Regions from separate parts of the Homo sapiens genome. Here region 1 is linked to region 2. The links come from fine-mapping of genetic effects on gene expression. A gene starts in region 2. The other region holds a variant in brackets. All regions are shown on one strand. Distances are from middle to middle. Region 1 overlaps LIMS1 (LIM zinc finger domain containing 1). Region 2 holds the start of SULT1C4 (sulfotransferase family 1C member 4).

What was found. PIP is the estimated chance that this variant, and not a neighbour inherited with it, causes the effect. A credible set is the group of variants that fine-mapping cannot tell apart.
Region 1: its variant is the best candidate, but not a certain one, in a credible set for the expression of SULT1C4 in lung (TOPMed, PIP 0.55).

Annotation. Positions count from the first base shown.
Region 1 is chr2:108,672,648-108,675,566 of GRCh38, reverse strand. It overlaps LIMS1 (LIM zinc finger domain containing 1), which reads right to left. Exons shown (of 10, transcript NM_001193483.3): 5 at 2,538-2,687. Among named protein-coding and RNA genes, the nearest start is that of LIMS1-AS1, 4.5 kb to the left of the region's middle. The variant T/C (reference allele first, on the strand shown) is at 1,360.
Region 2 is chr2:108,376,677-108,379,595 of GRCh38, reverse strand. It overlaps SULT1C4 (sulfotransferase family 1C member 4), which reads right to left and starts at 1,642. Exons shown (of 7, transcript NM_006588.4): 1 at 1,090-1,642. The coding sequence starts at 1,258.

The DNA of each region.
Region 1 (2,919 bases), 300 kb before region 2:
AAAAGCTACAGGGAATAATCACAGTGCTGAGGGTAGACTCAGTAATACTATCTGCTATGGTGTGACTGTGTCCCCAAAGTTCATGATCCCCAATTCTGAGGTGTTGAGAGGTAGGACCTCTAAGGGGTGATTACATCATGAAGGCTCTGCCCTCACAGATGGATTAACGCTGTTACTGAGGGGGTGGGTTCCTTATAAAAGGACGAGTTCAGCCTCCTTCCTTCTCTTCCTTCCCCCCTCCTCTTCCCCCACCATGTGATGCCCTCTGCTATGTAATGATGCAGAAGAAGGTCCTCACCAGATGCCAGCCCCTTGATCTTGGACTTCCCAGCCTCCAGAACCATGAGCCAAATAAACTTCTGTTGGTTACAAATTACCCAGTTTGTGGTATTCTGTTACAGGCGCATAAAATAGACTAACACACGACCTTTCCAAGCAAACTGAGAAGTTGGGAGACTAGTTCCATTTACTAACAATTATTTAAATTGTCACAAGCTGTTGAAAATAGTTATAGGTTAATAGGTTTATTTTCATAAACAACAAAATGCCCAGAATTTTCCTTCTCCAAATACTCAAATTAAATATTATTTTCAGTCTCCTGCATCAATAAACATTTGGTCAGAGATGGTCCCAATTAGTCAAACGGACTTGTTTGAATTTCATCCCTTTTATGTAATTCTCTAGGAGAGATGCTAATGAAAAGTGGACAGAGGTGAATCCCCAAGAGGAAGGACAGGCAAGAAAACGAGATAAGGCACAAACTGATAATTCAATCACAAAAGATGAGATGGCTGAACTTATACAACCAAACTGTTTTCTTTCTTTCTCTTTTTTTTTTTTTTTTTTTGAGACGAGTCTTGCTTTGCTGCCCAGGCTGGAGTGCAGTGGCGCGATCCACACTCACTGCAAGCTCCACCTCCCAGGTTCATGCCATTCTCCTGCCTCAGCCTCCCGAGTAGCTGGGACTACAGGCACCCACCACCACGCCTGGCTAATTTTTTTATTCTTAGTAGAGATGGGGTTTCACCATGTTAGCCAGGATGGTCTCGATCTCCTGACCTCGTGATCCACCCGCCTCGGCCTCCCAAAGTGCTGGGATTACAGGCGTGTGCCACTGCACCTGGCCCAAACTGTTTTCTTAGTATTTGGCTTACTGTTTCTTCTCCATCCCTACTATAATTTAGCAAGTAAGTTCACATTAACTACAGTAAAGAATATTTTTTTATTTTTATTTTTTGAGATGGAGTCACGCTCTGTCTCCCAGGTTCGAGTGCAGTGGTGCGATCTCAGCTCACTGCAACCTCCGCCTTCCGGGTTCCTGCCATTCTCCTGCCTCAGCCTTCCAAGTAGCTGGGACTA[T/C]AGGCACCCGCCACCGTGCCCGGCTAATTTTTTTTGTATTTTTTAGTAGAGACGGGGTTTCACCGTGTTAGCCAGGATGGTCTTGATCTCCTGACCTCGTGATCTGCCCGCCTCGGCCTCCCAAAGTGCTGGGATTACAGGTGTGAGCCACCACGCCCGGCCAAGAATCTTTATCCACTAAATTTTTATACTAGGCAGCAAACTGAGAAAAATTCATAGCCCAACAATTTATCATAACTTATTGAAGACAAAAAATTAAATATATTTCTTTTAGATATAAACCAAGCCAAATTAAATAAATGTAACAACATCTTTTAAGATAATACCTAATTATTACAACTGTAAAAGTTATGCATGTACAGAGATAAGACCTTTTTTTGTTTTTAGATCTTCGATTGGAAAAACATAGTGATGACAAATATTTCTGGGGCTACTGGGAATATTTTTAATATGGACTGATAGTTGATATTATAAGATTATTGCTAATTTTCTTAGGCATAATAAGAGTATTGTGGTTCTGGCCAGGTGCAGTGGCTCATGCCTATAGTCCCAGCACTTTGGAAGGCTGAGATGAGTAGATTGCTTGAGCCCAGGAGTTTGAGACCAGCCTGGGCAACGCAGCAAGGCTCCATCTCTACAAAAAATTTAAAAAAATTAGTCAGGAAGGGTGGTGTGTGCCTGTGGTCTCAGCTACTCTGGAGGCTGAAGTGGGAGGACTGCTTGAGCCCAGGAGGGTGAGGCTGCAGTGAGCTCTGATTGCCCACTGCACTTCAGCCTGGGCAATAGAGCGAGAGAGACCCTGTCTCAAGGCAAAAAAAAATTTACAAAAAGTATCGTGGTTCCATAGGAAAATGCTCTTATTCTCAGGAGACGCATACTGGGACTCATGAGAAATTTTAGAGGTATGCGTATACAGGCACACGTGCACACATACATAGGAGGGTGAAACGAGAATGTGGACTGTATACACACAAGCATGGCAAAATGTCAACTGGTGAAACGAAATTAAGTGTATACAGGTTTCATTATATCATTCTCTTGACTCGTCTATAGGTTTAAAATTTTCTAGACTAAAAATTGGAGAAAAACAATTTGGTTTGCTAGAGTAACAGAAATATAGATAAATGTAATCTTTCATTCCCACTGCTTGTGTAATAAAAAAGAAACAATTCCAGTACCCGCAGTTGGCGCAGTTGAAATGGTCTGGATGGTAGGGGTCGTTCTTGAATATCAGAGGCTGCTCATCGATGATAGCATGGCATTTCTGGCAGATGTATTTCCCAAGGCCTCTGGCTTTCTCACGATTATGACAGGGGCGACACAGGTGTCTAAACAGAGTCAAAACTTAAATTTAAAATTTTAGGTTCTTTCTAATGGTTAAAAAGAAATATGCTTCCCTTATCTCTGAAAAGAAATTAAACAAACCATTTCTTAAAAAAATCACTCCTGTGCTTCACGGGGCAGAATCAAGCCACATGAAAAATGTGTTCCAACCCTAATATGACTGATTTTTAAGAAACTCCATCTAGGTACATCCCCCATTGGTAGTTCAGCCATGCA
Region 2 (2,919 bases):
AAAAACCTAAATGAACCATATCTTTGTACTTGCGTTTGGCAGATAGAGAAAAGATTATTTATGTATTGAATTGATAATCAAGTGGAATTGTCAATGAAATTAAGATGATGAGATGTGATCCTCACCAGTGGCTACTTTTAGAAATTTACATTCAGAAAAATTTGATCCTGAATGGGCTCCTGATGAGTAAGATTGGGAAATCAGGACCAAAATGAAACAGATGGACAAAGAAGAGACCAAGGCCTCCATGTGCCTGCAGAATCTTCTGTCAGGATCTTGAGAGATAAGAACAAAAGAGGATTTTGAACAGTCTCAGAAAATACTGAGGTTTAGATTTTTTGATGTGTGTGTGTTTGTGTGTGTATAACAAGAGTTTTTGACAGCTTGATTTTGCAAAGAGCAAATGTATATACAATTTGTGTGTGGACCCAGTAATGTATTTCTAGTAGATATGTAGATATGCAAAAATATTTATAGAGAACTATTTCCACCTCATCATCACCCAATTTTTATGACGTGGTGGCTCGGCTTAAGCTAGTCCTACTTTTACAGACAACTTTGTTAAACTGATTGTTGAGATAAGGCAGTTGGTTCAAAACTTACCACAAAGGAAGGTGGAAATCAGAAGGATGGTTCTCAGACCCTGAGATGGGAGGGCTGCTGAGGTGATATCAGCATTGCAGAACCAAAGCTCCCCTATTTCTTTCCCAAATCAGACTCAGGATCACCTTTCTAGCTCACACACTCAAAGCAGCTTTTTACAAGATCTACAATAAGGGCCTAGATTGGGAATGAATAAATAAACAAGTCTACCCTTTTGCTCTTAACTGTTTTCACTCTCTCCTGGGAAAGTGAAAAAAAAAAAAAAAGGAAGTACATCATAGTATCATAGGAAGATTGAATTCTAAAAATTTGTATGTCATTTTAGTATGTTTCGGTATAGCTTCAGTTTCCACTAGTAACTTTCCTTAGCCATATCACTCTGTCCAGAGTTTTCCAGATCAACTTCTTTATTTCATGACTAATGCATACTTCCACTTACCTTCCTAACTCTCCTCTTCCCCTTCCCCTGCAAGCCCTTCCACCTACCTGCTTTAGGATAGGTAGAAATAAGCAGGTCATCAGGCTTGGCTTGGAAGTTCCAGATCTTATCCCAGATGTCACAGGTGTCTGTCGGTTGAAGAATTCCCTTCACGTAGTTGACACTTAAGCGCTTTGTTCCATCAAATGTAAAATCCTCCATGTCGTGTAAGGCCATTAGTGTAAGAAATCAGAGGGCTCTTCCAGACACAAAGTTATCTTCAGTCAGCATATGGCTGCGTTGTGGATAGAGGCAGCACTCTATCCACCACACTACCACACTATCCAGCCCTCTAGCACAGGCCTGTCTGGGCCAGCAAACAGGGAGAAAGTGAGTTGCAGGCCTCCCGACTCAGGTTCCAGGGAACTGGAACTCTTGTTTATGACTTTGTCCACTGGCAGTTTCCTGAGGAACTGCAGCCCCCTCCTCACCAGGCTGTGGCGTCACAGCAGAGGCGGCCACAAACCCTGCTGGCCAGCAAACAGGGAGAAAGTGAGCTGCAGGTCTCCCGACTCAGGTTCCAGGGAACTGGAGCTCTTGTTTATGAATTTGTCCACTGGCAGTTTCCTGAGGAACTGCAGCCCCCTCCTCACCAGGCTGTGACGTCACAGCAGAGGCGGTCACAAACCCTGCTGGCTGGGTCCCGTTCCAGCCCTTCCGTTCTCTGTGAGTTAACAGGACATAGTATCACATTGTTTATAGCTCTCATGTCTGTGTCCATTAAACCCTTCATAGATAATTTCAGTAATTATTCCTTCTGGGAATTTTAAACAATTAAAAAGTTGCAGGACTTGCCTGTGAAATTACAGATTCTACACAGAATGACTTCCCTGAGAGACTGCAGGGACTTTCCCGTGGGCTATTAACAGTGGGGGCCTGGATGGATCTGAATCTCCCAGTACAAACATCTGCCAGGGTCAGCTTTGTTATTTTTTAAGAGTAAAATAAATAATGCTAAACTGGAGAATTGTAGGGGTTTCATCACAGCTATGAAAACATGTATGCCTCATTTAAAGCAAAAGGGATGCAGAAAACTCCAGAGTTAACAGAAGACAGTGGCTGCCTTAGGAATCCATTCTGCCCCTGATAATCAGAAATTTCACAACTTGCTTCAGTCCCTGCCCCCGGCCTGGCCTGCACCCCAGGGCCATGCCACACTTGCTCCCCATGGCAGCACTCCTTCTGGAGATCTTGTCGGCTCTTGTGTGTCTGGCTGTCTGATTCTCTTTCTTCGTGTCCCAGCTTTGATGCCCCCTTTCTGGAGAAGCCTTCTTTGACTTTCTATGTCATCTCAAGTAGGTCCCTCCTATTTCCTTGCTCATGGCACTTTGTGTTCCTTTAGAGCAACCATTGACAGTTAGTTTTTGCGTGTTTACTTGTTGGCATTTTCTGTCTCCTTCACTACACTCTAAGGCACATGAAATGGGGCCTGTTGTTTTCTCACTGTTTGATAGCTGTATGCCTAGTGTCTGGCATTCTTCTATTTCTCGAAAGAATGAATGAGTAAAACTAAGCAAAAATTGAGGAAGCGAGTTCCTTGGGCCATCATTATGTGGGGACTAGGTGAGTATGGTGGCTGTGGCTTGACATCCTTCAGAGAGAAGTCAGGCTGCCTGTATTTGAACCCTGTGCCAAGTCCCAGTAGCTGTGGGCAATGGCAGGTTACAGAATCTTTCTCTGTTTCATATCACGCTTTTCCTCAGGTCTGAATTGGGGATCTTAACATTATCTACCTCATGGTTGTGGGGAGATAAAACAGCTTATTTAATGCTTGGCAACAGGGAAATGTTGAATAAATCATAGCTGTTAATAATAATGGGTGACTTTGTTCACCATTT